3 separate regions of the Homo sapiens genome follow, and regions 1 and 3 are each linked to region 2. Evidence: fine-mapped expression QTL. A gene starts in region 2. Each other region holds a variant in brackets. All regions are shown on one strand. Distances are between the middles of the regions.

Evidence for each region. PIP is the estimated chance that this variant, and not a neighbour inherited with it, causes the effect.
Region 1: its variant is the best candidate, but not a certain one, in a credible set for the expression of CLIP4 in fetal neocortex (Walker 2019, PIP 0.51).
Region 3: its variant is the best candidate, but not a certain one, in a credible set for the expression of CLIP4 in T cells (TOPMed, PIP 0.70).

Annotation. Positions count from the first base shown.
Region 1 is chr2:29,226,053-29,236,128 of GRCh38, reverse strand. ALK (ALK receptor tyrosine kinase) reads left to right here. Exons shown (of 29, transcript NM_004304.5): 14 at 2,433-2,564; 15 at 3,681-3,825; 16 at 7,063-7,245; 17 at 8,457-8,555; 18 at 9,055-9,207. Among named protein-coding and RNA genes, the nearest start is that of CLIP4, 120 kb to the right of the region's middle. The variant C/T (reference allele first, on the strand shown) is at 5,065.
Region 2 is chr2:29,111,438-29,121,513 of GRCh38, reverse strand. CLIP4 (CAP-Gly domain containing linker protein family member 4) reads right to left here and starts at 6,099. Exons shown (of 16, transcript NM_024692.6): 1 at 5,849-6,099; 2 at 1-140. The coding sequence starts at 125. LOC105374386 (a long non-coding RNA gene) reads left to right here and starts at 6,770. Exons shown (of 3, transcript XR_007086265.1): 1 at 6,770-6,845. RefSeq lists silencers at 5,449-5,688, 5,879-6,238.
Region 3 is chr2:29,022,653-29,032,728 of GRCh38, reverse strand. TOGARAM2 (TOG array regulator of axonemal microtubules 2) reads right to left here. Exons shown (of 20, transcript NM_199280.4): 12 at 9,538-9,643; 13 at 8,355-8,590; 14 at 5,718-5,876. Among named protein-coding and RNA genes, the nearest start is that of TOGARAM2, 46 kb to the right of the region's middle. RefSeq lists an enhancer at 8,501-9,002. The variant C/T (reference allele first, on the strand shown) is at 6,279.

The DNA.
Region 1 (10,076 bases), 110 kb before region 2:
GGCTCATGCCCGTAATCCCAGCACTTTGAGAAGGCTGAGTCAGGAGAATCGCTTAGTTAGTGACTAGCCTGGGCAACACAGCAAGACCCTGTATCTAAAAAAAAAAAAAAATACAAAAATTAGTCAAGCATGGTATTTCGTACCTGTACTCCCAGCTACTCAGGCGGCTGAGGCAAGAGAACTACTTAAAGCCAGGAGTCAGAGACCAGTCTGGGCAACATAGCAAGACCCTGTTTCTTAAAAAAAAAAAAAAAAAAAAAAAAAAAAAAAAAGTCGAGCCTGGTAGCTTGTGCCTGTAGTCCCAGCTACTCTGGAGACTAAGGCAGGATGATTACTTGAGCCCAGGAGTTCGTGGCTACAGTGAGCTATGATCATGCCACTGCACTCCAGCCTGAGTGACAGAGTGAGACCCTGTCTCAAAAGAAAGAACCCAGATTGGACCCTGAATCCTGTGCTCTGCCCAGCTGACAGCTCACATCCCTCAGACCCATCCCCAGGGCCAACCCTCAGGGCACATTCCCTGCAACTCACGCCTGTGCCAGGTGGCAGTGAGCAGGGTCTCCTCCCAGGAGTCTCCCCCCAGGCCAGGACATAGCTGCACATACATATGGGAAATGCCAGCTCTCTACAATAGCAATTCAGAGCCTTCCACCCACACTAGATCCACTCTAAGAAATATCAAATTATTTCCATCGTTAAATCCAAAATTCCATGAAACAAACTGCATCTCGGCTATTTATCTGGAAATTTCTGTAGTACTCATTGCCGGCACCCCTGAGCGCTTTAGCGTAAGAAGTGGCTCAAGAAGAATGGCTGCATCCACTAGCTGGTTACGAAGCAGCATCGATGGAAATGTGATGTTTTACTGGCTTTTTTTCTATTAAGTGAAAGAAAAGTCACTTTCCTCCAAGGTCAGGCTGATGTTTGAAGAATTCGTCTGAGCTGTGGTGGCCGACAAGCAGGCGTGGCTGTTTTTGAAGCACCATCCTACTTCTTCAGGGATTCCAGGATTCTGTTACAGAAATCTCCAGCACAATCCTGGGGACTCTCTAATACCTGAGCCCCAACCAGGAGCATATGTGGGCCCAGAAGTGAATCTAAATTAGAACAGCAGCTGGCTGGGCACGGTGGCTCACGCCTGTAATCCCAGCACTTTGGGAGGCCAAGGCAGGCGGATCACCTGAGGTCAGGCGTTCAAGACCAGCCTGGCCAACATGGCAAAACCCCTCCTCTACTAAAAATACAAAAATTAGCGGGGCATGGTGGTGTGCACCTGTAGTCCCAGCTGCTTGGGAGGCAGAAGTTGCAGTGGGCCAAGGTCGTGCCATTGCACGGAGTAAGATGGCAAAAACAAACAGATAAGAACAGCAGCCATTTACTCAGTTCCCACCATGTGTGAGGCGCTCCACTAGATGCCTGAGGGTAGTACTTGTACTACGCTCAGTAAATGCCACAACGACCTGTGTTGTCTTCATTCGCAGCCACACTGGAAGATCAGAGATCGAGGGCCCCTGTCACAGTTTCCCAGGGTGGGTGGAGAATCCAGACTACCTGATTGCAGGGCTCACTCTACAAGGCAAGCAGAGGGGTGTGCCAGGGATTCCGGAGGGAAAAAATGGAACATTAGCTAGGAGGAATGAGATGTCCAAAAGGGAGAACTGATCTTCCCAGAGAAGAACTGGGAATAAAACTTGAGTCTGGCCTCTTGCTGGTTTTTTTCTCTCCTCCTGATGCTTCAGAACTGTGACTTCTCAGAAAACCTCGATGGCTCTCAGTGAGAGAACGGCTCTCATAGAGAATGAAGTCCACTCCTTGCAGTGCCTTCAAGGCCTCTAGCCATGATCACACTGTTCCGTTTAATTCTCTCTACCCACCTAATTTACGCTCCCTCCAGCCCCATCTCACCACATAGGACCTTTCCCATTCTTTCTTGGATCTCTTCATCCCACAGGATCGAAACAGGTCCTGGACAATCTCTCTGTCCTGATAGACTTCTGGGCCAAAGAGACCCTTGTGCTTTTCCCCCACGCACCCCACTCACCCACTTCCCTCTGGGCTCATGCCACTCTCTGCTCTTGGAATGACATAACTTTGCCCCACTCTCTGTGAAAAAAACAAAAACAAACAAAAAAAAACTCCCTATCCTTCAAGGCTCAACTAAAAGCCGCCTCCTACAAGCAGTCCTCACAGCAATAAAACCTTGCTCTCTCTCTCCCAGTTTCTCCTAGCATTTTCTGTCTAAGCTATCCTTGTGGTCCTTCCCTAACACTGCCCAGAGTGACAGTTATTGGTATATTTTTCTGCCTCCTCAACTCAACTGTAAGTTTTTTGAGAGAGAGTCAGATCCTGTTTTTAAGCATAGAAGTTCTGTCTGCTGCAAAGTGGAGAACTCTGGTTTGGCCACAAACCTAACGTGCTTTTTGTTTCTACAGACAAACCAGTTAATCCAGAAAGTCTGCATTGGAGAGAACAATGTGATAGAAGAAGAAATCCGTGTGAACAGAAGCGTGCATGAGTGGGCAGGAGGCGGAGGAGGAGGGGGTGGAGCCACCTACGTATTTAAGGTATGGTGTGTGCTGCCAGATTTCCACCAGGTTCCTGTGCATCTGCAATGTCAGAGCCTCATGACAGCCCTGGGATAGAAACACCTCAGATGCTCTTATCCCCGTGTAAAGATGAGCAGGGCCAGGTACAGTGGCTCATTCCTGTAATCCTAGTATTTTGGGAGGCCAAGGCAGGAGGATCACTTGAGGTCAGGAATTCACGATCAGCTTGGGCAACATACCAAAACGTTGTCTCTACCAAAAAAAATTTAAAAATTAGCCAGTTTTGGTGGCTTGCACCTGTAGTCCTAGCTACTTGGGAGGCTGAGGCAGGAGGATCATTTGAACCCAGGAGTTCAAGGCTACAATGAGCTGTCATCACGCCATTGAACTTCAGCCTGAGCAATAGAGCAAGACCCTGTCTCTAAAACCAACAAAAGAATTAAAAAATAAAGATGAGCAGACTGAGATCCAGAGAGATATAGAGTCTGTCTGTCCAGGAAAGGGTAGAACTCTTCTCTTACTGATACATCAGCCCAATTTCACCATGCACAGCCTTTGCCATCCTACTTTCAGAGAGTCCCACTGTGCCCTCCTGGACCAGCTCTCTGCCCTAAGGTGGACTTTGCTGACATCATCACAGCCAGGCCAGAAACTGAAGACAGAGGCCACCTGCTAGGTCCTCCCACAGGACTGTGATGCTGAGGGCTTAACCTTGAATCTTTGGGGGTCAGAGCCAGAGACCCCTAAGAATGAGGGAGAGAGAGCATAGAGAGACCTGCTTCTAATCACCAGCATCCAGACCTCTGAGGCCAGTCTAAGGAGCTTCAGGAAAGGGGCTAGAGGAAGTAGAGGAAGCAGCCTCTAAGATCAACCCCCACCTCCTGGTATCTATATTTTGCTCTTGGTATATAGGTCTTGCTTCTCTGGTTGAACCCTGACTGATAGAGAAGCTGGCGGAGCCGATGGGCTATTGTAACAAGGGTTCAGAGCCCGCAAACCACCTCAGACCACTGAGAGGTCACCAGGTCACCCCAAAACAGCAAACCCTCAGTCAGGTTGAATTTACCAGAGCTTAGGGGCTCCAGGGGGAAGCACAGCTCGGTTTCTCAATGTCTGAATGTCTCCCCTGGTCAGATGAAGGATGGAGTGCCGGTGCCCCTGATCATTGCAGCCGGAGGTGGTGGCAGGGCCTACGGGGCCAAGACAGACACGTTCCACCCAGAGAGACTGGAGAATAACTCCTCGGTTCTAGGGCTAAACGGCAATTCCGGAGCCGCAGGTAAAGCGCTGCAAGCGTGCCCTCTCCCAGAACCTCTCCCAGGCCTTCAGCTGGGCCCCGATGCCATCGCATGCCTGAGGGCATCTTAGTCACTGGCACCTGGGATGCTAGGAGCTCTGAATATTGGTACCGATATCCAGGGAGGGAGGGCAGGCAGCACCCTGGGAGCCCTGCAGGCCATCTTGCTGACCTGGAGCTTGGACTTGTAGAAGGTCACTGAGAAAGTGAGGCAGGGAGCAGCCGTCAATCAGCCAGCTGGCCCTCCCTGCAATTGTTAGAGCCTCCCCCTGAGATTCCTTCTTCCTCCAGGGGCAGATGGGCCCCCCAGTTAGGATATGAGCAGGTGAAAAAAATCTGGGCAATGTCAGGCCTCCTAGACCCCCATGGTACAGACCTCCAGGCCCTGGGCTGCCAGACCCAAGCGTATCCCCGCTGGAAAATCTCTTACTTGACTCTCCACGGCTGAGCTCTCCTCCCTCATTAATGGGAGCCAGAAGCACAGAAATGTGAGACAGGCAGGGAAGAGAGTGTCAATTCCCTGATTCCTCTAAAGTCAGCCACCCCTAAAGACAGAAAATGCAATTCCTTTTTGTATTTTCTTTTCCACACAATCAGACTGTGGGAGGATCTTAGAAGGCATTTAAGATTTGGGATTAATTAAAACAAATGTGCAAACTGTCTCTCAATTGAGAGACGGCTAGAATAGAAGAGTAGAAACAGTCATGGGTCCACCCTGAGGATCTCCAGTGACGTTTGCAGCACCGAGGCCCAGCACCCGAGAAACCCTGAAGCACCTCTGCCTCTGTTGCACATGTGCTGTCAAAACAACCTGCAGGTTTCCAGGCAGATACCATTCCTGTTTTACAGGAGAGCCAATGGGCTCACCAAGGCATGATGACTTTTTTTTTCTCAACAGGGCCGAGCTGTTTAGTGATAGAGACAATTTTTGTTTTTTGTTTTTTGTTTTTGAGACGGAGTCTCGCTCTGTCACCAGGCTGGAGTGCAGTGGCACGGTCTCGGCTCATGCCACCTCTGACTTGCAGGTTCAAGCGATTCTCCTGCCTCAGCCTCCCGAGTAGCTGGGATTACAGGCACACGCCACCACGCCCAGCTAATTTTTGTATTTTTAGTAGAGACGTGGTTTCTCCATGTTGGTCAGGCTGGTCTCAATCTCCTGACCTCAGGTGACCCACCTGCCTCGGCCTCCCAAAGTGCTGGGATTACAGGCGTGAGCCACCA[C/T]GCCTGGCCAGACTCAATTCGTATTTTTAAAACACCGTTGTTCTGATTTTGATATGGGTTATTTTCCTTTCCACACATTTGCTCGAAGGCTGCAGAACGGGTATGGGGGTCAGAAACCTCCTCAGCTGGGGGCTGAGCAGGATGAAAGCACAGCGCATGGTCTCCGTCCATCTCGTTCTGATTTATTTATTACGCGCTTACTCACAGCCGTGCACAAACACCAGCGCCAACTTCTGGCCCCTAACGCGCCTAAGGGGCCTTCTCTCTGCCACATGACAACAGCCTTGACAGGCCCACACCCTCCCCTGAGAGCAGAAGGGAGGACAGCGAAACAAACCCAAGCTCAACACCCACCCCTGGAGGTTTCATGGCTAACAAAGTCCCCCCAGCTTGCCTGATGGCCTCGCCTCAGCTCTGCTTGTCCCCATTCTAGATTCAAGCTTGTTCCTGACCTCAGCTTCATTTTCAAAACCTGGCTTCCTCTTTCTAGCAAGACAGTCATCCCACCTACAGGTCCCTCTGGGTCCCAAAGAATCTGGGCCACAAGTGCTTCCAGAAACCCTGCCAGGCCGGTTCACCCGTAGGGTTCCGGCAGACACACACACTGCTGTTTCTGCCTTCCACCATCAATTTCCAGGTCCCCAGCATGCATCATCTGCTGCAGCAGAAAGGGTTTTAGGGTTTTTAGAATACCTCCACCCTTTCCTATCCATCAGTTCTGCGTTCGTGGGATTCAACCAACCACAGATCAAAAATACTCAAAAAAAAAAAAAAAGATGATTGTGTCTTTACTGAACATGTACAGACTTATTCCCTAAATAATACAATAACTATTACATAGGATTTACCCTGTATTGGGTATTATATGTAATCTAGAGATGATTTTTTTATAGGAGAATGTGCAAATACTATGCCACTTTATATAAAGGGACATTTATTTTGGTGTGATGGAGGGATCCTGGAACCTCCACAGATACTGAGGGACAACTGTAGATGTCTATTCAAATGTCCTATGGAACAGTAGGCATAGGGGATATCCTGGAATCTCAAAGGTTAGCAGAAGAGATTTCTTGTGGTCAACCTGTGGCTACATTCAACCTCGGCTCTGTAGATAGCTTCCTTTGTAAGAGCCCAAAGCAGCCCCAGGCATTGGGAAGCACAGCCCTGAGGCTGCCTTTGTTGCCAGGGTATCGTCCACCCACCAGGGCTTCTGCTCCTGACCTTGGAGCAGTTCCTGAGCGCCTGGCCCTGGAGAACCTCTAAGCAGGCTGAGCCCAGGTGTGAGGCTGTCTGCACGCGTGTGTTCTGCCTCTCGAGCCCCTGACGCTCCCCACCCCTGGCAGTTTGTGGAGCATTTCGTACACTCACTGTCTCCTTTGAGCGGAACATCAACCCCATCAGGTGGGTCTTATTATCCCCAAGCCACAGGTGAGGAAACACAGGCTCAGAATGGGGCGTTCTTCCCCAGGGTTTCACAGACAGCAACGGGCTCTCTGGTCAGCCTAGTCCAGGATTCCTGCAAGGAACTTTAGTGCAAGGTTTTGACATGTGGCTGCTCAAAGACTGGTGAGTCCCTTTTCTCGTTAGGACGGGAGGCAGTTAATGAAACGAAGGTCCAGTGCTACGGGGCTTGGCTGACATGAAGAGAAGATAGAGGAACGAGTTTAGTCGCCATGCTGCCTGTCTGCCCACGTCCCCCCATCCTTAACCAAGCACAGCCCCTGCTTTTGAGCCAGAGAGTACTGGCAGGAAGCAGGGGTACAAGGCACGCTCTCATCTGGGTGTACTCAGCTGTGGCCAAACAGGTCTCCTAGGGCAAGCAGCCTCCTGGTTTTCCTAGTGTGGATCTGAAGCCCCCAGGCCCCACTGAAGATGGGCCCCGGGAGCTGGAGCTGGTGCGGGCGCCCTCCAAGGCGTCCTGCATCCTGCTTCTCTGGCCAGCATGGCTAATTGAACCTTGCCAGCATCCTCACGCAGGTTCCCTATCTCTTCCCGCAGGTGGTGGAGGTGGCTGGAATGATAACACTTCCTTGCTCTGGGCCGGAAAATCTTTGCAGGAGGGTGCCACCGGAGGACATTCCTGCCCCCAGGCCATGAAGAAGTGGGGGTGGGAGACAAGAGGGGGTTTCGGAGGGGGTGGAGGGGGGTGCTCCTCAGGTGGAGGAGGCGGAGGATATATAGGTAAAGATGATTCGTGTTCAAGGTGTCACTCCCTCCCTGCTTAGTCCTAGGCTCCTCACCTCCCTGCCCTGCCCTCCCCTGCCCTCCCCTGGCCTGCCCAAGTGTGGACTGTGATGTGACTGCACGCCTCCCTCTCGACCTGCCTGGACCAGCCAGAGGCAGGGTGCTGGCTTTCGAGCCAGCACCCTGCCTCCAGGCTTCCTCAGCGACAGCATCAAGATCCCATGTGATTCTTGATGTCCCCCAAAGTCGATGATAAAGAGGCTTTGGCTTGCCAGACTAGTCTCTGAGTCACCCATAAGGACTCCCCCAGCCTCCCTTGGATGGCCTGGCCAAGCCAGCTCCTGAAGGGGCTGGTTTGTGGTTTCATGGACTCCTTACTCCTGCTCCCTACCTCAGCCCACCAGCTTCCTGAAAGGCGCCGCTGTGCCTGCTGATGGGAGCTATTCCCGAGGGCAACTGCAGGCAGGCTTAGCCCAGCCCTTCAGCAAGCAGCTGCCCATTGACCCCAGCTGCCTCGTCTGGGCTTCAGAGCACAGTCAGCAGAGCCTTCTGAAGCTGAGAGGCTGGGAGACGATGGCTCCCCGCTCCCCACAGATTAGGACGAATGCATGCATGCTCTGTGGTGTTCGTGTCTGTGTTTTGCATTGACGCTGTGTGTAAGATGCTTGTGTTAACCACATGCTCTTCTTTTCCAAGCTGGGTGGGTGGGAGGAGCCCGAGGGGGGAGCCCAAAGATAGCCCAGCCCCAGATGAAAGGAGGGACGGGAGCCTCAGGGCACAGGGGCTCATTTCCCGCAATCCGCACAGCCCGCCACACCCCAACCCTGACCCAATGGGGCTGAAGAGCAACTCTTCAGTGCTACCATCCTGACCAGTCCTGGGAGAGGCACCATGGGCATATCCCAGCCTGGAAAGACTAGAACTTTTTGGACTCTTGCTCACATTAACCACTTCTTAGTGGGCCACCGGCAGAGTGGGAGCTGGCCTGGACCTGAGGGGAAATTAGCCACACACCCAGCATCTACTGAGCCAAATCCCACATGCAGCCTCTGTGCCCTGAGCCTCCCTTCCCTCCCCGCATCCCTGCCCCTGAGGTCCCCAGTGACCCCCTAACTTTGGCCAGAGCTGCATGCCCCACTGACGTGTGTGTGTGTTAAGATTTTGGCACCCACCCCCCATGTTAAACTCTGCTCTGGTTTGCTACTCAGGCGGCAATGCAGCCTCAAACAATGACCCCGAAATGGATGGGGAAGATGGGGTTTCCTTCATCAGTCCACTGGGCATCCTGTACACCCCAGCTTTAAAAGGTAGCTTCTCTGCCAGGCAGCAGAACAAACTTGCTTAGGTCAGTCCTCCCACCAAGCTAAAACCTCAGAGTCTCTGACCTGTATCCAGGATACAGAGGCACAATTATGGGTCCCTGGCAGGCAAGCTTCCTATGGCGCAGGTCACCACATTTTCCAGAAGTCAGGATGTGTGCTTTAATATGAATGCAGAGGCAGAATCCTAGGAAATGTAACAGTAATAGCCCAATACCTGCACCAGCCAACCTAAAGATCATGTGCGTGGGCTTCTCTCCACCACTGACTCAAAAGCAAACATCCATAGACACCCATGCCCGCTGCCTCCGCTGCACTCTCTATATGCACAGGAAGACTCTTCTACACAGTTGTGCTTCCAGTGGCTATGGGACCTAGGAACAGGGACCACCAGAGCACCCACAGTGACCACCTGGAGACATAGTACTGAGGCTGGGAGTGGGGAGGCAGGCTCGGCCCAAGACTGACCCTCCCTCCTTGTCACTAGTGATGGAAGGCCACGGGGAAGTGAATATTAAGCATTATCTAAACTGCAGTCACTGTGAGGTAGACGAATGTCACATGGACCCTGAAAGCCACAAGGTCATCTGCTTCTGTGACCACGGGACGGTGCTGGCTGAGGATGGCGTCTCCTGCATTGGTAAGGGGGCAGGGCCAGGGGAGGCAGAGGGGCCCATAGCCTGAGATTTGGCCCATGACCACAAATGGTTTCTGGGTTCCAGAACACCCTGGATTCGGTTTTGTAAACTTTCTGTCCCTCCCCTACCTGCCACAGCTCGAGTGCTCTGACCACTGTGTGAAAGGTGGGTCATGGCTCCTGAAGGAGTCTTAAAAATCCTCTACTATAGAATAAGCCCTCTACCACCCCCACCAAGGGGCCATCCTGCCTCCACTTAAACATGCCCAGTGACAGGGATCTTACTGCTCCTAAGGTTCTCTGTTCCCTTGGGCAGTTTCAGAGCTGGGGACCTGTTGCCTTAACCTTCCTCTCCTAGGTTTCCTTACAGCAGCAGCTGTGCATGTGCAGTGTTTGAAGACAGTGCTCCCATTCTCCTCCTCTTTTTTTTTTTTTTTTTTTTTTTTGAGGCGGAGTTTCACTGTTGTTGCCCAGGCTGGAATGCAATGGTGTGGTCTCGGCTCACTGCAACCTCCGCTTCCCAGGTTCAAACAATTCTTCTGCCTCAGCCTCCTGAGTAGCTGGGACTACAGGCGCCCACCACCATGCCAGGCTAATTTTCATATTTTCAGTAGAGACAGGGTTTCACCTTTTGGCCAGGCTGGTCTCAAACTCCTGACCTCAGGTGATTCACCCGCCTCGGCCTCCCAAAGTGCTGGGATTACAGGTGTGAGCCACCGCACCTGGCCCCATCCTCCTCCTTTAACTCTTCTTCAGACTAAATAACCCATTTGTTTGCAGCAGTTCATACAAGATGCAGTTTTGTGTCTCTTCCCCCGCCCCACCAGTGTCCCTCTTCTGCATGTGTTCCACTATCGATGTCCCTTTTGAAA
Region 2 (10,076 bases):
GAAGGCATTGGTGCTGCAGAAATGGAAAAGATAACTGGGGTATCAGAAGCAGAAAATATAAATGGGTATCTTCCAAACAAAGGATTTCCTTCTAATGGAAAATCTGGAAGGTCCTCTATGGTCATCTTCTAGAAAGCCACCTATAATAAGAAAGAAAAAAAAAGTGTTTCTACTTTATTTGTATGCAACTTAGAATGACTGCCTTCAATAACTGCCTAAAAGTTATTTGACGTCAAATCTGCTGACATTTTCAGTAAGGATCTTTTATGAAAGGGAAAAAATTCCTTTTGGCAAAACTGTTGTTAAAAGGCATACATTGCTTCACACCACCTCTTATACCAGTCGGTAGCACATGTAATCTCTCTAGACAAAGCTCAAAAGGAATATAAAATAGGTGAAAACACTTTAAATGCTGAGCTAATCTAAATGGGTGAAATCCTCCTACTCATGTAACAAACAAGGGCGTATTAACCCTTGTAGATGGATCTTTAACTTCCCATAACACTGGCACAAGTTACATCATTTGTCATCCAATAGCTCATGCCATGTGCTCATCACATGAAGATAATCTACCTTAAAATGTTTCCATTATTTTCTATCCCAGAAAACTTTACTGAAAATTAATCATATCCCTCTTACAAATCTAAGAGTTTACTAAGATTGTTCAACTTAACAAGGTCCGAGGTATGTGAGTTCTATCCTGGCCAAAGATGGAAGCCATGCCTTTTAAAGCACATGGCTTATATTACCTCTTTTTCCCAGAAAACATGAGTGCTTAGAATAAATTTGCTCTAAATTAGACTTTGTACTACACCCTAGCCTACATCTCAGAAATGATGTAGAAAGCAGAGAAACTGCTAGTAAAACCAAACTTATGAAGCTAAAAGCCTTCCAGTTTCTTTTGTATCCGATCTTTACTATCTGAAGTATCATGAATTCCTGTTTTTAAAATGTAAGCAAAACATTATAAAACTAAATGAAAAATGAGTTTAGATTATTTCAGTAGAAAGCACAGAATAAAAATAGGTAATCAATGGCTTGATCTGGTAGTAGACAACACCATACTAGCTACTACTTAATGTGTGCTCTGTTCTACTTAACCAACCCTATATCTAACTCAATTATCCTTACCATCAGTTCCCCACTACAATAAAACAGTCATTTCATTGAGCTCACTGTTGTCTTCCTAACTTGATTCATGTTTTCTTAATACTGGCAGGAACTGGTAAAAAGTAGGAGGCTTTCTTTTTCCTCAAAAATCGTATGCTTATATGGATATAGATGTTATATATTAGGTAACCTAATCCAGTTGTTACTATTTTAAGGTATTCACATTTTCTTGGATGCTAAAATTACTTACCACCAAATACTTAGAAGCATTTTGACATTAACCTTGCCACATAAATAGGAAAATGACAAGTTCATGGAATTAGTGTTATAGAGCAGCGGTGATCTTCCTCAAATACTATCAATTCCAAACAGTAATGAGTATTTATTAAGGAACCACTATATACAAGACACTATTCTAGATGTTTCAGCAAATACAAAAATGAGTTAACAGATGGTCCATGCTTCTTAGGTAGTTTACAATCTATTAAGGTGAATAAAATACCACTAATAACTATAGATTATGAGGCAGAATGGGATCTGCTCCATCACATAAGTACCAGGAACATTTGCAGTTGGAGCTTCTAAGAATCATAAATGGTGAAGAAGGTATCATCTGTGATGAGTCTTGAATGATGAATAGGTATCAATATAAAAGGGGATCCCATTAAAAGAACAGTAGGCTGGAACTTGGGATATGACTAGGAAAACAGTCAGAGGTGAGGCTGTAAGGGCTTTTTAGGGCTGTACTGAGGAGCAAATACCTCATCAAAGACCAAACCACTTACTTTCATGAGCACTGGGAAACTACTGATTTTTTTAAAGAGAGTAACATGATTAAAGCTGTTTTAGGAAAATTAATCTGACTATAATCACGGTTTGGGACTCAGACATGTTTTTATACTCTTAATTCTTCAGCAAAAAGATTCAGTGGATATCTGTCTGAGTCGGTTAAGAGGAGTCACCACATGACTTCCCTTTCAAAGGGTGGAGTCTCCCATTCAAAAAAAAAAATTTTAAGTGATCCCCAGAGCACCTTTCATTTCCTTGTAAACTGTTGAGATCCTCAAAGATACGAACTCTATCGTACACAACTAGCAGTCACCACAGGAGCTAGAATAGTGTGTTACACATATTTAACTAATATTCAAAGCTTAGATTCAAAGTGGAAAGAGGATTCATGCAATCAGATGTAACCAGCTTCATTCTTTTACATATTAGATACTTCAAGTCCAGAAGAAGCTACAATATTACCTGACCAATGCAGTGAACATTCTTTGTATTTTGTCTTTGTTGCGTTTTTCTCTAGTTACATTTCCTTATTTTCGTGAAAAACTTAACATTCTACCTTTTGTCCTCCCAAAGGAAACTATGTACCCCTATAAACTTCCTTATAGTCTCAGATTCATTTCCTAAAAGCAATTCCTGGATCTGAAGACCTACAACACCTGGACTCTTGGTCAAATGTCTAAGTATACTGATCTGAACTGAGTACACACTTTCATTCCAAATCCAACTATGGTTAACTGGTGATAACTGATTATAAAGTAAGCCTCAGGTTAAAAATATATATATATATATTGGCCCTGCCAGGCATGGTGGCTCACACCTGTAATCCCAGCACTTTCGGAGGCCATGGCAGGTGGATCACCCAAGGTCAGGCATTCGAGACCAGCCTGACCAACATGGCAAAACCCCATCTCTACTAAAAATACAAAAAATTCGCTGGGCATGGTGGAGGGCACCTGTAATCCCAGCTACTCAGGAGGCTGAGGCAGAAGAATCGCTTGAACCTGGGAGGCAGAGATTGCGGTAAGCCGAGATCCCGCCACTGCAGTCCAGCCTGGGCAAGAAGAGCGAAACTCCATCTCAAAAAAAAAAAAAAAAAATTGGCACTAATCAACTGTCTACAGAACAGGTGCCTCTGATACTAACAATAGCTAGAATCAAATTCCCCAAACTCTGATTTCTATAGGAATTTCACCCTACTCATCACTCCAAGTTAGCTGTTAGCAAAAGCATCTTACATAACGTGGCTCAAATACCTTGTGATTTTTTTTCCAAGACTCCTTGGTCCATGCTTTAACACAGAGCAGTAATAAATGGGGATGTCCACTAGCATCTTCAGGCTGGTTCAGGACTGTCTGGACCCCATAAAAGGGCCTTACTGAAGCCAGGAGACTTCAGATTTGAGATATGGTTCAAGAGTGTCCTTGAGTTATTCAACTAATAGGAGACCAAAGCTGTGTCTACATTAGCTGGAATCATGAGGCCCTTTCATTCAATTTCCTGTAATACTTTGTTATGAGTCATCATTCTCCTGAGATTCCAATCTCACCACGTAAGTATTTAAAGCATAACTCCAATGATCCTTTTATTTGCTACCTACATAACATCTGTACAATCTACTAAACAGGTATTTACAGTACTGAACACTTAGTTGGCCTTAGAGAGAATTAAAAATTGAAATACCTGCCCTGAAAAAGCTATTTATGCATTTAACAAATATTTATTCAGTTTTTCTTACTAAGTTCTAAGCTATGCAAAGGTAAAGAAACCAGATCTGTCCTTGCCCTCATATAAATTACAGCCTAGTGTTGATTCCTACCAGAAAGTTGAAAGTAGTAAGTGCTATGACCAAGGACAGCTGAGTCCTATGAAAGCACAGATTCAAGAGGGTCAACGAAGGCTTCCTGGAGACTAATAAGTTAAAGCTGTGGCATCTGACCAGCTAACTACTAGCCACATGTGACTATTTAAATTAATTTAAAAATTGGCCAGGTGCAGTGGCTCATGCCTGTAATCCCAACACTTCGGGAGGCCGAGATGGGCAGATCACTTCAGGTCAGGAGTTCGAGACCACCCTGGCCAATATGGTGAAACCCCACAGCAAAAATTAACAGGGTGTGGTAGCAGGCGCCTGTAATCCCAGCTGCTCGAGAGGCTCAGGCAGAACAATCGCTTGAACCTGGGAGGCAGAGATTGCAGTGAGGAGAGATCAGGCCACTGCACTGCAGCCTGGGTGACAGAGCAGAGCGAGACTCCGTCTCAAAAAAAAAAAACAAAAACAAAAAAAAGAGAGAGAGAAAAGGAAAAGAAAAAAAATATTAAAATTTCAGTGCTTCCACTGCTCTAGCCCCATTCAAGTGGTCAAAAGCTATATGTGGCTAGTGCTACCATATTGGGTAATGCAAAAAGAACATGTTTCTGGTCTCCGAAAGCTCTTCTAAACAGCACTGAAGGAAAACAGTGCAGCTCACTCTCCAGATGAGAAAACAATATACAAATGCCTGAAACAAGACACAAATAAAGGTTAACACACTAAAGCAAGCCTATAGCTCCATAGTTCATTATAAATAATTAACAAGGGAGCAGTAAGCCTAAAAGTAACCAGAGTTTGAGGTTTGAACAGGGAGAAAGAGTGAAGTTGATTTTATATAATCTAAAGATCACTAGTTTCAAACACGTGTCAAAATTGGAGTTGTCATAAGCTATGAGAGACAACATAGGTCACTTTTTTAAAAGCCCTTGCTGGTGGGACTGTATGTGGTAAACACAAAATGTCTGAAATGAATCCTACAAATAGAATACCATGGGCTAAATCTTCTACAAAACAGAAGTAAACACATTCCATGCATGGCTAGACTCAATCTTACAGTCCAGATAGACCGTATCAAATGAAAGCATTTAAAAAATGCATCATATTTACGAAAGCAAAATAAGCTGGAACCAGGATGGTTCTCCAACATAAAAACGCAGACCAACTAGACTCCAGCAGGTTCAAGTCTCTGCTTTCCTCCCCAGTTGCTCAATGCCCCGCACCACGTGATCCTGTGCTGTTTAGACGACTCACTTTAAATTGTGCACAAGATTCACAAACAACAAACGTCAAAGTGAAAGTGAAGTACAATTTAAGTGCTGGCGGATGTTCCTGAGGAAGGTGTTTACTGAAACCTTTCAAAGGCGCCCGTTTTATACGATGATGGTGCTACAATATGAACGCAGTCTAGTATCTCAGAACATACAGCAAGTTATTGTCCCATAGGAACATCATCCTCTGATACGTATCAAAACACTGTCTCAGCACAGAGCTGAAAACCAGAGTCTGGATGACGTGAACAGCCTGACATCTAATTCAAAGCTCTACCATCATAAGCAGTGAATGGGATCCTTAAGGATGCGGGCTCAGCTCCAGCGCTCCTTTCAACTTCCCCTCCCAGGTGCGGATGGTTCAGAATTAAGGGATCTCAGGTAGCCAAGGACTGCAAGGACAGCCATTTGGTTTAGCTTTGAAGACCCACTGGCCAAAGGTTTCTCGACAATTTAATGCGCAAGGGGAGTCAAGTGAGAAATGGGAAGAGGCCGCGTTGGAAAGCCACTGCGCGTGCGGGGACTCTCGGGGCAGCCGCGGCTGGCGGTCGTGGCCCAGAGCCCAGCTCCGCCGCCGGGTCCCGCACACCCCGCGCCCCTCAACCTAAAGTTGGGCCGTCCGTCAGCGGCCGCCACGAGGAGTCCCCATCCCCGCCGGGTGGGCCGCTCCGCCCCGAGAAGGCCTCCCCGCGGCCAGCGACACCGGTGCCCACGGGAGGCGGCCGCGGGGCTTCCACAGCCCCCAGCGCCTCTGCGCGACCCTCCCGGGGCCACTGACCTCCCCGCGGGCCCCCAGGGCCGCCCACCCCGGCCCCAACCCCGCCGCCGGCCAGCCCGCGGCCCGGGGGGGCCCCGCGCGCCCCCGGCCCACCTGCCTCCTCCGGGTCCTCTCGGAGCGGCCGGCTGGGGACGCGGGGGCGCGGAGGAAAGGCCGAGAGGCGCGCTCCCGCCGGCGCTGTCTCCCGTGGCCGCCCACGGAGCCTCCCGCCGCGCCGCTCCACACCTCTCCGGGCCCCTCCCGCTGCCTCCCACGCGGGGTGGGCGCGCGCGCAGTGCAGGCGGCCGGGCGGCGCGCAGGCCTCGGCCACGGCCCCGCGCACGCGCTGGGGACTCGGTGGGGACGGAGGAGGCAGCGCGCGCCTGCGCTGGCTCGCCTGGCTCCCGCGCCCCCGCACTCCCCAGCAGTCAGATGATCGGGCGCACGCGGGGCCGCGACCCCGGCTGACAGCGTCTGCGGGGTGTCGCAGTGTTACCTCCCCCGCCGCGAAGCCAGGCGGCCCCGGCACGCCGTGCGTGCCCACCGCCTTCACAGCCCTCAGCCTCGCGGCCTCACGTCTCTAACCTGCGGCGCCCCCACCAGCTGCTGGGGCCGGGGACCTAGTCTTACCCGTCTTGGGCTCCCCAGAGTCCAGCCGAGCGTGGTCAAGAGTACATCCACCAGTTCCCTGCTGGCAGCGCTTGCTGTAAAAGGCCTAATCCGTGCTACACCCACGTTGAGCAATTAGTTCATATCTCCTGCGGCTTTGCTGCCTCTTCACCCACGTTTTCTCCTGACCCCTTCTCCGTCTCCCAAGGACCAGACAGGGTGAAACTGTGCACCTAAAGTCGTGAACTCTGACAGCCTGACTCTCTGTCATCTGGTAACAAGAAAGCGTTACTGGACACATAGTGAGTCCCCTTAATGAGGAGACCTAGTAAGACCATGACCGAAGTTTGAAACATGGAGACAACAGTGTTACATCTATCAGCTGTCTCTGAGGCCTACAGCGGCTGCTTCATAGAGGCTGTACTTCTGTGTTCAGCGCGCACAGTGCCTGGCAGGAACAGATGTTGAATGAACGTCTGTCAGTGTCTCTGCAAGAGCAGAGGTAAGCGCTCACCGCACCCCGGAGCATCTTTTCCTGTTAGAATCATTGATTTCAGGGACTGGAAAAAGCCCCCTTCCCACTTGCCTGAATCCTCCTTACAGTGTCTTCCCACCAAGCAGTGGTTGAACACCTCCACTAACAAGGAACTCATTACCTTTTAAGGCAGCCATTTAATCTTTGATCAGCCTTTTGGAAATTTTCTACCTTAGGAGCTAAAATCCAGCTCCCTGCATCTCTCCCTCACTGGATTTTGTTTCTGCCCTGGGGACTCTTAAGTCTGACTCCAATTCATCCAAGACACACATTACCTGTCCCTTAGGCTACTCCTGATATGACCTGGTCACAATCCCACTCACCAGCATGTTGAGGGATTCTCTTGGATGCATTCCAGCTTGTCCAGAGCTCTCTTAAATGTGATTATCAGGAATGAGTGGGTGGCCTGCCAAGTGCGGAGAGGAAAGAGACTGCCACCTCTTCTTAGGTCCTATGCTTAACAACATTCACCATATCAAAATAGTTGCTAGGAGCAGTCACATCACATTGTTGAATCGGGTGGAGCACACTTGACTAAAACCCACAATATTTGAATACATGACCATCCCTGACCCTGGTCAGCTGCCAGTTTCTCTGTCTCTGCAGGCTCAGCATCTGCGAGTGCTCTCAGAGATAATGTGACACGGATACTTCCTCCTCCCTCTGAAGAGTCCACCTCCCTTTCCCTGCTTTCATCATACCCTCTTCTTGTCTGACCCACCCATCTCTTTAGCTGGTTAAAAGAAGGAAGGCAATCTGCCCTTGGTTGGCTTCAAGCACCTATAAATGAGGCCAATTGTCATTGAACCACAGAAAGTCATAAAGATCTGTGTGTAACAGAGTAGCTATTGGTGAAGTTTCCAAACGTATACAGTTCACTTTTATTGCTGATTTAAATTATCCATCTGAAATACCACTATTAGTAGGTGACAAGGCATGGCTAGCTCAGTTGTTCTTAGTTATAATAAAGATCTCTGTTAGAACCAGCCAGGCCACTGGCTTTATCTGCTACACCCAAACACTGTATGATACATAGGCAAATTCCCAGGATACCAAGCCACCAGAGTCTCCCACTCACTTAGTTGCCTTTGTTCAAAAATCTGACGTTACTTCTTTATACCATCATCAAGAATGCAAGTGCTCGTTGGAGTCATGCTTCCTAGAATACCTCGTGACATACAAGCTTTAGAACCAGGTATTGCCCAGTTAACCAGAGTGAGACTGGACAATGATATGTGGCCAGAACTTGGAACTTGAACTATTCATTGGGGTGGGAAGGCACATGGGGATGTGGACCAACTGTAGCTGCTGAGATTCAATTCTATCTGGAGACACAAAGTTCCTGAAAAGTATAGCAATAATCCACAGCGTCAGGAGGTGATCAACTTACTGGTCAACATCACAGTGTGGAGAAAGGGCATTACTCACTGACCACTGTAAGGCACTTGACCTATGGAAATCTTGTCTTCACTTTACAAATGAAGAAGCAGACTCTGGGAGGCTGCGTGACTTGCTCCATGTAGCCAGGGGCAGAAATAAGATTCAAACCTAAGTCTGTCTGATCTGAAGGCCTATGTTGATTCACTACTTTGCTAACCTACACAGGCTGTCTTTGGGGGCATTAAAGACCCAGAATGGCTGCATAGAGCAGCATTCAGGAATTCAGACACTCGGCAGCAGGAAGATCTGTCAGCAGCTCTCAGGACCCCGACCATGATAAAAGGGTTAGAGGAAATAGCAAAAGAAGACAAGGTCACTGCTTTTACATGGACTGGATATGGGATGGAATATCATCAGTTTCTAATTTGTGAGTGTATAGGGGGCCTAGGCCCTTAGGACCATGAGAGACACCCAACTGTCAGAATTGGGGCACCAGATTGGAGTTCAACTAGCAGAAGTGCTTAAATGCAAAAGATCAGAGCACTGGGCAGAGCCCCTAATATCTTCCTGTCTGTGATGTTTACAGGTGTGATCATCAGCATAAAAAGCCCAACAGAATCAACAAAGTATTAGAAGTAATGTTAGCTCAGCAAGGTTGCCAAGTACAAGATCAGTTTCTAAAAATCAATAGTTTTGTCTACATCAGCAGTAAGCAACTGGGAAATGTAACAGACAATAAGAAACCATTCACAATAACAATAAAGTTTAACAAACTCTAAAGCATAATATCCAGGAATTAACCCAACAACTTGCAAAAACTTTAAGGAGAAAATTTTAAAACTCTATTTAAGGACATAAAATATTGAATAAGTGGAGAGATACAGCATGGATAGGATGACTTTACATTGTAAAAGTATCCATTTAGTCTCCAAAGTAAATGTTATGGCAACCAAAATTCCAGCAGAAACTAAATTTTTAGGGAACTCAACAAACTTACAAAATATATAAGGAGAAATAAATTTTAAACAGTTAAGTCAATTATAAAAACCAGAGCAGACCTGCCATGCCAGATATTATGTCATTGCCACATAGTAATAAAAATATTATGGTACTGGTATAGGAACACATAGAGCAAATAGGAAACAGAATGAAGAACTCAGGAGCAGACCCACGTATAAATGCTACCTCCATTTACACAAAGGTGGTACCACAGATCAATGAGAAAAATATAAATTATTTAGAAGACGGCATTCGGGAAACTGGCTTTAATTTATCAAGGAAAAATAAAGTTGAGAGCCCCATGTTCTGCCATATACAAAGGTGAACTCCAGATAAATGGCAGACCTACATATGATACAAAAGAAAATGCAGGAGACTATCTCTATAATGTGGGTTAGGAATTTACTTCATAAAACAGGTTTGCAAAAGCACAATCCTTGAAGCAAAAAAAAATTGTATGACTTGACTGCATCACAATTAAGGGTTCTGTTCAGTTAAGAATACCATAGAAAAAATTAACAGATGGCTGACAAATTGGAAGAAAACATGTGCTATGTTCAAAAGCAACTAGGGATTAATATCTGAAATGCATGAGGAACTTTTCACAAATCAAAAGGAAGTCAATATAAAATATTTTAAAGGCCAATATAAAAATGAGAAAAGTATAAGAATAGACAATTCACAGAAGGAAAAGCCAGAATGGCAAGCAAGCATTAAAGAGATGCTCAACCCCACTTGTAATCAGAGTGGGAATATAAAGAGTGTGACCCCATAGCCACCAATATGCTGGTCTATGTTTTAAAACCCGCTCCCCAGGGA
Region 3 (10,076 bases), 89 kb after region 2:
TTTTACATATTTTCCTATAGTCTTTTTTCTGTGGCATTTACTTTCTAGTTGATATCAGAATGTATATACAAGTTGTATTCAGCTTTTTCACTTTATCATTCATTAATCATCTTCCCAAGTCCCTTAAAACTCTCCATAAACATCCTTTTTAATGGCTACAAAATATTCCGTTGAATGGCTATACCAAAGTGTACTCAATTTTGTTCTAATATGGAACATTTAGAAGTCCCAGAAAGGGTAAAGCGGGACAATATAGGAGGGTGTAGTCAATCTACCTGATGAACAGTGGTGGCAGGTGAGGGAATCAAGGAGGGCTTCATAGAAGAGGTGACCCTTGCGTTGGGGCTCAACAGATAAGTAGGAGTTCACAAGTTGGGTGGGATTTGGGATACGTCGGAGGAACAGGGTTATTTAGGTCTATAACACAGTGTGACATGTCAGCAGGGGGATATATTGGAGAATAGTGAGCAGAGGTTGGACACAGGAAGCAGACAGGCCAGAGGAGAACACAGGACCCTGTTTAGGGAGACATGAAGGAGTTAGGCTTCAGTTTGCATGCAATAGGAAGCTGAAGAATGATTCAATTTGTACATCAGTCAAAATGTCTCTAGCAGCAGTGTGGAGGATGGATTGGTGGAGACAAGGCTAGGGGCCAGGAGACTTATTAGGAGGCCACCATAATAGTCCAGGAAAAAGATGGTGCAGGCCTGAAATCAGGCAGTACAGTGAGGATAAGGAAGCACAGTCAGATCCAAGAGCTGCTGAGAAGATGGAAACCACAGGATTTGGTAGCTGGTGGGAAGTGAAGCAGGAAGCATCTAAAATCTTAAATCATATTTCATTCAAACTTAAGACTCCATTAATTGTAAAAGGTGCCCTTACTTTATTTTCCACTAAGGAAAATCAGAAAAATAAAAACTGGTGATTTCCATAGCCTCCAATGACACTGCCCCATGTGTGAGGGCAATCTTTCTATGTGCTATCTCAGAAACAGAAGATAGCATTGCTTGTCGGTATTTTTCTTCCTTAGGTCAGGTAAAGTTCTTAGTGATTGCTTTGCAAAAAATGTGGGACTTGGTCATTCCTTCCACAGTGAGAGTTTGCTTCATTGATATCTAATGGATATCCACTGACGTTGCCATGCCTTTTCTCATATACAATAATTATTCATTTCAATTGCAAATAATAGTGTAATATTTCTAAGAAACTTTAAACAGATTAAACTCAATGATTCTCCAGAGAGCATCCAAAAATCACTTCTGAAAATAAATTTAAAAATTTACAAAGAAAGGCTCATAGTGTAGTTCCTACAATGGAAAATTTAATTCAGAAAATAATACTCTGAGCAACACTGACTAAGTTTGTGAAGGTGCAGATAGTATAACTACATCATAAACTGGGCACAGTGGTGCACACCTATTGTCTCAGCTATTTGGGAGGCTGAGTCAGGAGGATTACATGAGCCCAGGAGTTCAAGGCTGTAGTGTGCAATGATCACACCTGTGAATAGCCACTGCACTCCAACCTGGGCAACATAGCAAGACCCCATCTCTTAAAACTACAAAAACACCTATGTCCTAATCACTGCCTAGCCCAACTGAAGCCCAACAGCAACTGTGAAATGCCTGTCATTGTAAGATACATGCCAATTTTAAAAATATTAAAACCAGGGAAGGATGTGTGTCTTGAAATCAATGAAGTATGGGAGTCCCCATTGTGCCTCTTGGGTGGCTCAGTAAATAACAGTCACTTTTAATGATAGAGAGAACACAGAGAGGCAGACTTGGAGAGGAGGCAATGAGTTCATTTAGGGACACTCAGCACTGCAGATGGCAGTAGGACATCAGATGGTGGGTCCCATGGAGGCTTTAGAAATGGGGACTGATGCTCGAAGAAGGGTCTGGAGTGGAGGGCAAGAATTGAGAAGCCTCCAACTTTGCTGGTGGCTGGAGCCACCAGAAGTAAAAGCCAGGAGAGGGAGATGAGGACTAAAGACACCTTGGCAGCACCTACACTCAGGTGGCAGTCAGGGGCAGAATGGTCACAGAGGGACAAGGAGAATCCCCGGAGTACAGTGCCATGGAAACCAGGAAGGACAGAGTTCTAGGAAGGAAAAGGAAATGTAGTCACCATCATCTAGTGTAAGGGATGGGTCAGAATGGAGAGGAGTAGCAGATCTGGAGAGACTTTAGACCTTGATTTCCATCCCTCTAACAACCATTTAAAACCAACAAGCAAACCAAAACCTTCTACGTCCTTTTTTTTTTCGTTGCATGGCAGAGTTACACAACACTTTATTATATAGTAGATGCTCTAGTAGATGCTACACAAAGAATAGCTGTTTATAGACATTTCATCCCATTCTTCCAGTCCCCCTAAACTCACTCTTCAAAGTATTTGCTCCAAGTTTAATGGCTATGTGATTTGTGATTTTTTTATTTATTTATTTTTTTGAGACAGGGTCTCACCCTGTTGCCCAGGCGGGAGTGTAATGGCCCTATTTCAGCTCACCGCAACCAGTGCCTCCTGGCCTCAAGCGATCCTCTTATCTCAGCCTCTCAAGTAGCTGGGACCACAGGCACGTGCTACCATGCCCGGCTAATATTTTGGTATTTTTTGTAGAGACAGGATTTCACTGTGTTGCCCAGGCTGATCTCAAACTCCTGGGCTTAAGAGATCCACCTGCCTTGGGTTCCCAAAGTGCTGGAATTACAGATGTGAGCCACTGCACCCAGCCAGGCAATGTTTTGTTTGCCTGTTTTTGTTTTAATTTTTTATTTCCATAGGTCATTGGGGAACAGGTGGTGGTTGGTTCCATGAGTAAGTTCTTTAGTAGTGATTCGTGAGATTTTGGTGCACCCATCACCCGAGCAGTATACATTGAACCCTATTTGCAGCCTTTCATCCCTCACCCCCTTGCCACTAGTTCCTCCTGAGTCCCTAAAGTCCATTATGTCATTCTTTTTTTTTTTTTAGACAGAGCCTTGTTCTGTCGCCCAGGCTGGAGTGCAGTGGCGCGATCTCGGTTCACTGCAAGCTCCGCCTCCCGGGTTCACGCCATTCTCCTGCCTCAGCCTCCTGAGTAGCTGGGACTACAGGCACCCGCCACCACACCTGGCTAATTTTTTGTATTTTTAGTAGAGACGGGGTTTCACCGTATTAGCCAGGATGGTCTCGATCTCCTGACCTTGTGATCTGCCAGCCTCGGCCTCCCAAAGTGCTGGGATTACAGGCGTGAGCCACCGCACCCGGCCCATTATGTCATTCTTATGCCCTTGCATCCTCATAGCTTAGCTCCCACTTATGAGTGACAACATACGATGTTTGGTTTTCCATTCCTGAGTTATTTCACTTAGAGTAATAGTCTCCAATCTCATCCAGGTCACTGCAAATGCCATTAATTCATTCCTATTTATGACTAAGTATTCCAGTGTGTGTGTGTGTGTGTGTGTGTGTGTGTGTGTATACACACATACATACATACATATCACAGTTTCTTTAGCCACTCGTTGATTGATGATGAGGCATTTGGGCTGTTTTCGCATTTTTGCAGCTGAGAATTGTGCTGCTATAAACATGCGTGAACAAGTATCTTTTTCATATGATGATACCCAATGGATACCCAGTAGTGGGATTGCAGGATCGAATGGTAGTTCTACCTTTACTTCTTTAAGGAATCTCCACACTGTTTTCCACAGTGGCTGTGCTAGTTTGCATTCCCACCAGCAGTGTAGAAGTGTTCCCTTTCACCACATCCACGCCAACATCTATTATTTTTTGGTTTTTTGATTATGGCCATTCTTGCAGGAGTAAGCAAAACCTTCCACTTCTCCACTGATATTCCTCATTTCAGCAAATGGCACTATTATTCACCATTGTTCAGGGTAAAAACTTAAGAGCATCTTCAGTTCGTCTTTGAAACCCTTACCACCTGCATCCTGTTGGCTCTGCCATCCTGTTGGCTGTTGGCCGAAGCCACCCACCACTCTCCAGTCTGAGCCTCCAGCCCCTCTTGCCTGGACTGTGGGGCAGCCATCATCTGCTGTTCCTCCTGCCTTTCTCTCTCACTACCAGTCCTGCGGCAGCCAGAGAGGCTTTTTTTTTTAATTATAAAGGCTAACACGCATGTAAAGAAACACTCAAACTCATTATTAATAAGCAGGGGGTCAAAGCACTCTAAAACAATGATGAGCTATCATTTTTACCCATTAGATGGATAAAAATTAGAAATCTAGAAATTGCCACATGCTGAGAGGCTGTGCAGGAGGGAGGCAGATGTGGACCCCAGGCAGGGCGGGGCTGCTGGAGCACACACATGCATCTGACCCACGGTCCTGCTCCTGGGCACGTCCGAGGAGGTGCCATGCAGCACAGTTTGCAGCAGGGGAGAATGGGAGGAACCGCAGGCACTACATCCCTCAGGGAGCACCCTCAGACGTGGGTACCCTACGAGAATGTCTGGCCTGGAGCTCACCCATCCAGGGTGGGCATGGCCTCTGGAGCCCTGACAGGTGCCACATGGTCTCCAGTTGGGGCGAGGATGGAGTGAGGGGTGGAGACCTACACACTCATCCAAATGGATGTGGTAGTAATAAGCCCTGAACTGAGGAGTGTGAGGAACTGGGCTCCAGCCCTAGCTTTTGAAGACAGTCAACCAGATCCTCTCGCTCTCCTGCTTAAAATCCTCCAACACCTCCTCATACTCCCACTAAGAAAACACTCCAATGACTTCCAATCACACACCATCCAAAATCCCAACTCCTGACCTTGGCCTAGGAGAACGTCTCTGACCTGGGCCTGCTGCCCACCCTCACCCCCACCCCTCACTCACTGTGCTCCACCAGGCTGGCCGTCCCCACCCTTGGACACCAAGCTTGTTCCCATCCAGTGGCCTCTGTGACATTTGCTTTGCCTGATCCTCAAAGAGCTGGCTCCGTGTAGCCGTTCAGCTCTCAACTCAAATGTCACTCTTAAAAAAGGTTCTCTGAACCCTCAGTCTAAAGCAGCCCCCCCACCAACTCCATTGCATTGCAGCCTTTACCTCCTGGGCTCAAGAGATCCTCCCACCTCAGCCCCTCAGTAGCTGGGACTACAAGTGTGCAACACCACCCCTAGCATTTTTTTTTTTTTTAAGTAGAGACAGGATCTTACTATGTTGCCCAGTCTCAACTCCTGGCCTCAAGCAATCCTCCTGCCTTGGCCTCCCAAAGTGCTGGGATTACAGGTATGAACAACCACATCCGGCCTATTTTTTCTTTATATCCCTGATATGTATCTAAAATTACCATAATTATTTATTTATTATCTGTCTCCCTCGACTAGGAAGTAAGCTCCAATACAATAGGGACTTCATTTTTCTTATTCACTGCTGTGTCCTTAATAAGAAAAAGAGTGATCATTAAATATCTCCAGAAAAAAAGGCCTGAATGTTCTTACAGAGAATGGTGCTGCGGTGAGGTAGAAACAAGAGCAACACTCAATGGGTAAGAGGGGAAATGGAAGACCAGAAAGTGGAGGCAGGGAGTAAGGACCCCTCCCTGAATGGGCTTGGCTTGATGGAAGGGATGGGACAAGAGCTGAAAGGAAAGGACATAGCTTCCGCCTACCTGCCTGTCCCTCTGCAGGATCCCAGGGAAGCTGAAGCTGTGTGCCCCAGGCCCCTCAGGGCTGGCTGGTTGGTTGCCTTCTCTGCCCCCAGGCCCCTGGCCCTGCCCTACCTGGTGTCCTGGTTGGAGTCCTGTGCCAGCCTCACCAGGTTGTGCACCAACATGTCTGTGCTGTCTCTGGTGCCCGAGAGAAGCTTCTCAGCGCCGATCTGCTCCAGCACAGCTGAGAGGTGCTCAGCCGCGTATTTCCGGATCAAGGGGTTCCGGTGGCTGAAAGGAAATCATGGCCCAGGGGTCAGTCTCAGGATAGTGGTGTGGGAGTCCCCAGGCTGGCAAACATGGATCTACCATTGCAGACCCATGCTTCATGCCAGCCAGGGGCTCCAAAAATACCTGTCCCCATGTGAGCTGAGGGGAATCTTTGAGGAAAGAGCACTCACTTTCTACGAACAGGGTGACAGCAACAACGGGAGAGGGAAGGAAAGTGACATGAAGCTACACGAGGTTCCCCAATACACCGTATGCATACCGTTCTTGGGAGCTTCCTGCACACACATCCTTCCTTTTGTCTAAGTACTCTTCTCCATCTTCCCTCCACCTAGAAAAGTCCTACCTAACCAGTGTCTCTTCTTCCTTCTTTCCCCAGCCCCACAGGCAGAATTAGACATCCCA[C/T]CCACTGCCCAAGGTAGCGCTGTCTTTGTCCCCGGGGAAGTACAGTTGCACCCTTAGGGCCCCCATCAGGCTGCCAGCTCCCTGTGGGCGGGGACCAGGTTATCTGTCTCCCTTGACTAGGAAGTAACTCCAAAACAACAGGGGCTTCATTTTTCTTTTTCACTGCTGTATCCATAATGACGAAAAGAGTGATCATTAAGTATCTCCAGAAAAAAAAGGCCTGAATGTACAGAGAACAGTACTGGGGTGAGGCAGAAACAAGAGCAACACTCGATGGGCAGAGGGGAAATGGAAGGCAAGAAAGTGGAGGCAGGGAGTAAGGACTCCTTGCTGAATGGGCTTGGCTTGACGGAAGGGATGGGACTAGAGCTGAAGGACATAGCTTTCATCCACCTGCCTGTCCCTCTGCAGAATCCCAGGGAAGCTGAGCTGCATGTTCCAGGCCCCTCGGGGCTGGCTGGTTGCCTTCTCCGCCCCAGGCCCCTGGTGCTTCCCTACCTAGTGTCCTGGCTGGAGTCCTGATTCCCTCTCTGTGGCAACCCCACTGCCCTGCTGTGCCTGACACATCCCTGGTGCTTGGCAGGAGCTTAATGCATGTTTGCTGAACTGAACTGAGACAGGAGGGAGAAGAGGGATTCATGGGTGAGTTGGTGACCATAACAAGTGGAACCTGAGCTCTATAAGAGAAACCTGTCAGAATGGCACCTCTTTCTAAGGGCCTCTGTGTCCACACTCCATCAGGAAGCACTGACCCTTTTGTCCCCTAGAGTCTCACCCCAGTGGAACACAGTGGGGGACATCAGAACTCTCCCTACTCAGCATGGTCCATGGACCAGCAGCACTGACATCTGAACCAGAATCTGCATTTCAGCAAGATCCCAGCGGACTCAGATGCACAAGCCATGACCCTGGTTCTTGTTGACAGTGATCAATTGCCTGTCCCTCCATGCCAGCACCTTTTATCCATTATCTCACATCTACCTCATTAGCTACTATTATCATCACTATTCTGCAGGTGAGGAAGCTGAGCCAAAGGGAGGCATCCAGAAAAAAAAAATACAATTCATTTCTCCTAAGTTAATTATAGACACAGTAAGCACTCAGTGAATGTCAGGAATGGGCAGGCACCTTTCTAAGTGCGCTTTCGTGAGTCAATTCAATTACCTCTCATAACAACCTCATGAGGTAGACACCATTATTATCTCCATTTTACAGATGAGTCAACTGAGACACAGAGAAGTGAAGTGACAATCAGGATGTGAACCCAGGCAATGTGGCTGGGCAGGATCTCACCCTTTGCAGTATGCTATGGTGCAATTACTAAAGGTCTCCCAGCTGGTCCAACAGGCCCCTGGGGCTACTGAGAAACCTCACGCATCAGTGTAATGATCCACTTATGGGGTGGAGAGGCCTTTTGCTGTGCGGGAGAAGCAGCTTGGGAAATGCTTTTGGTTTTGCTTTTAGTGTGGGTGTTTAATGACAGGGAAAACAAATCTGCAGAAAGGCTCCAACAGGAACCCAATACCTTCCCCTCCCCAGGAGCAGGTCCAGTGGGGCAAGCTGGAGAATGAAATTTTGCGACTTTCTCTTCTCACTGGCCCACATTTCATCAGAAAGCAACACTGCTCCTGGGGGTGACAGGAGCTCCAGGGCCCATGCTCAGGCTGCCTCTGCAGCCCTGTCTCCCGGGGCGCTCCCACAGCCACGGTGTGCTCCCCAGCCTTGGAGTGCAACGGCCCCCTCCTCTTCCAGCCAGAGGTCCCTGCATTCCCCCGGCCTGGCCGATGAAAGGTTGGGAGAGAAGCCGGATGCCCGGCACAGGGAAGCAGGGGTCTTCCTCCCCCAGCTAAGTGGGAAGCACCTGCTGTGAAGTCTGAGATGGGCCCCTTCTTCACTCAGAACCTCTGACCCATCACCCTGTCCTCTAGCATCTCAAGGGACCCCCTGCAGCCTCACTTGCCTGCTTCCCTCCCTCCCTCCCTGCACCCTTCCCTCCTTCTTTCACATCCCAGGGCCTCTCCCCTTGCCTTACCTTCCCTGACTTCCCCGCCCCTCAGACAACAGGCAGCCACATACTAGACACCCGCCGAGGTGAGGACCACCAGGGAGCGGGCAAGGGTCACATTCTCCACCATAGCCCTCAGAGACTGGCCGGCTGCTCTCTGGATGAACTCGTTGGTGTCCGCCATCTTCTGCAGCAAGCAGCGGGCGATCTCCTCGGCCTCCTGGTCCATATTCTTCTTCAAGGCCTGGAAGAGGTCTCCCAAGGTGCTGATGGCCAGGTGAGACACCTTGGACCGCAGGTTGGTGACCTTGGAGAGAGGAGAGAGGCCCTCCAGGGTGCTGGACCCTGCCAAGGGCTCTGGGACGCATGGAAAATGGGCCCTGCACCACCCTCTTCCTCCACCCCCACCCTTCCCCTGACCTAGGCCTTGCCACGCTGGAAACAAAAACCCTGCAGCCACTCTGAGCAAAACTGTCCCATTTTGTTATCATCTCAATTATTAATCCCATCATTATCATGACCATAGGAAATGTGTACACTCTGTCTTCAAAGCACTTTTACAAAGAATGTCTGATTTGATCTTTGCAACTACCAAGTGAGAAATAGGTACCATGAGAAGCACAGTAGTGCTGACTGAGGCTCTAATTAACCTGGGAGAATGTAACTGTATTTTTTCTGGATGCCTCACTTTGCAGAGGAAACAGAGACCCCAGGCCACATGCAGGAAGGCAGATGCTCCCCACACAGCCCAGGCCCCTGTGTTAACAAAACAGCGTCCTCCGTATTCATCCCCACCCCACCCCCACTGGAGCAGCCCACTCCCAAGGGCAGGGCACAGCCTCCACATGAGAACAAATGTAGCCTCCTGCCTCTCTGGACCCAGCTAGACCAAGCCACAGAGCCATGAAAGAAACGCTTTGGGAAATACTACCACTGCCCTGGAGTTGGGGATCTGGCCCTGGACGCTCCATCCCTCCTTAGGCATTTTGAGTACAGAGGACCATGCAGGCCGACACATGGGCATGTGGGATTCTAATTGTTTCCATTCTCAAAGATTACAAATAAGGAAACCCTAGGCCTCAGTTTTCCAATCTGAGAAATGGGTGGCTACCTCCTACCTCAGTGGCTGAAGGCTGAGAAATAAGCAGGGATCCCCATGTCCCTGAAGCCACAGCCCCTCCACAGCTGCTAGCGGACTGCATCCAGCAGCTGCAGTGGGGCCAAATGCACAGCACACAGGCTGGGGGGCCTCACCTCCCCAGTCACCACCAAGCACACGTCGTGCAGCTTCCCGGTGAGGACCTCTGAGTGACAGGCTGCCAAGCGCTGGATGCTCACCAGACCCTTCTCCTTCATCTGCCTGAGAAGCAAGGCCAGGCCCTGTTGCAGAAGGGTGGAGAGGGAGGAGCCCCACCCCTCTGCAGACTAGGGGCCCCACATCACACACCATCACGGTCCACCGTCACCCGCAGCAGGGTGCCATTCCATGGCCTCAGAGCAGGGTTTCCCGGGGTAACACCCTGGCCTGGAATCCTAACCACTCAGTAAAAGCCAGTTTTATGTGGCCTCTGGCCAGCCCTCAGCTCTGACAGTGCTGTATGGAAGCCCACCCCCCTCCAGGACCTGTCTGGGTCCTTGACACAAAGCCAACACCTTCAATAAAAGGCACTTGAACAGGGAGGACTGAAGGCAGGGAGGGCTTCTCACAAATGTTCTGGAGGCCGAGGCATTGCTTTGCTCATGACTACGGTCCTGCATCCCCACAGTGGGAGGAGCGCTCGGAGCAGATTCAA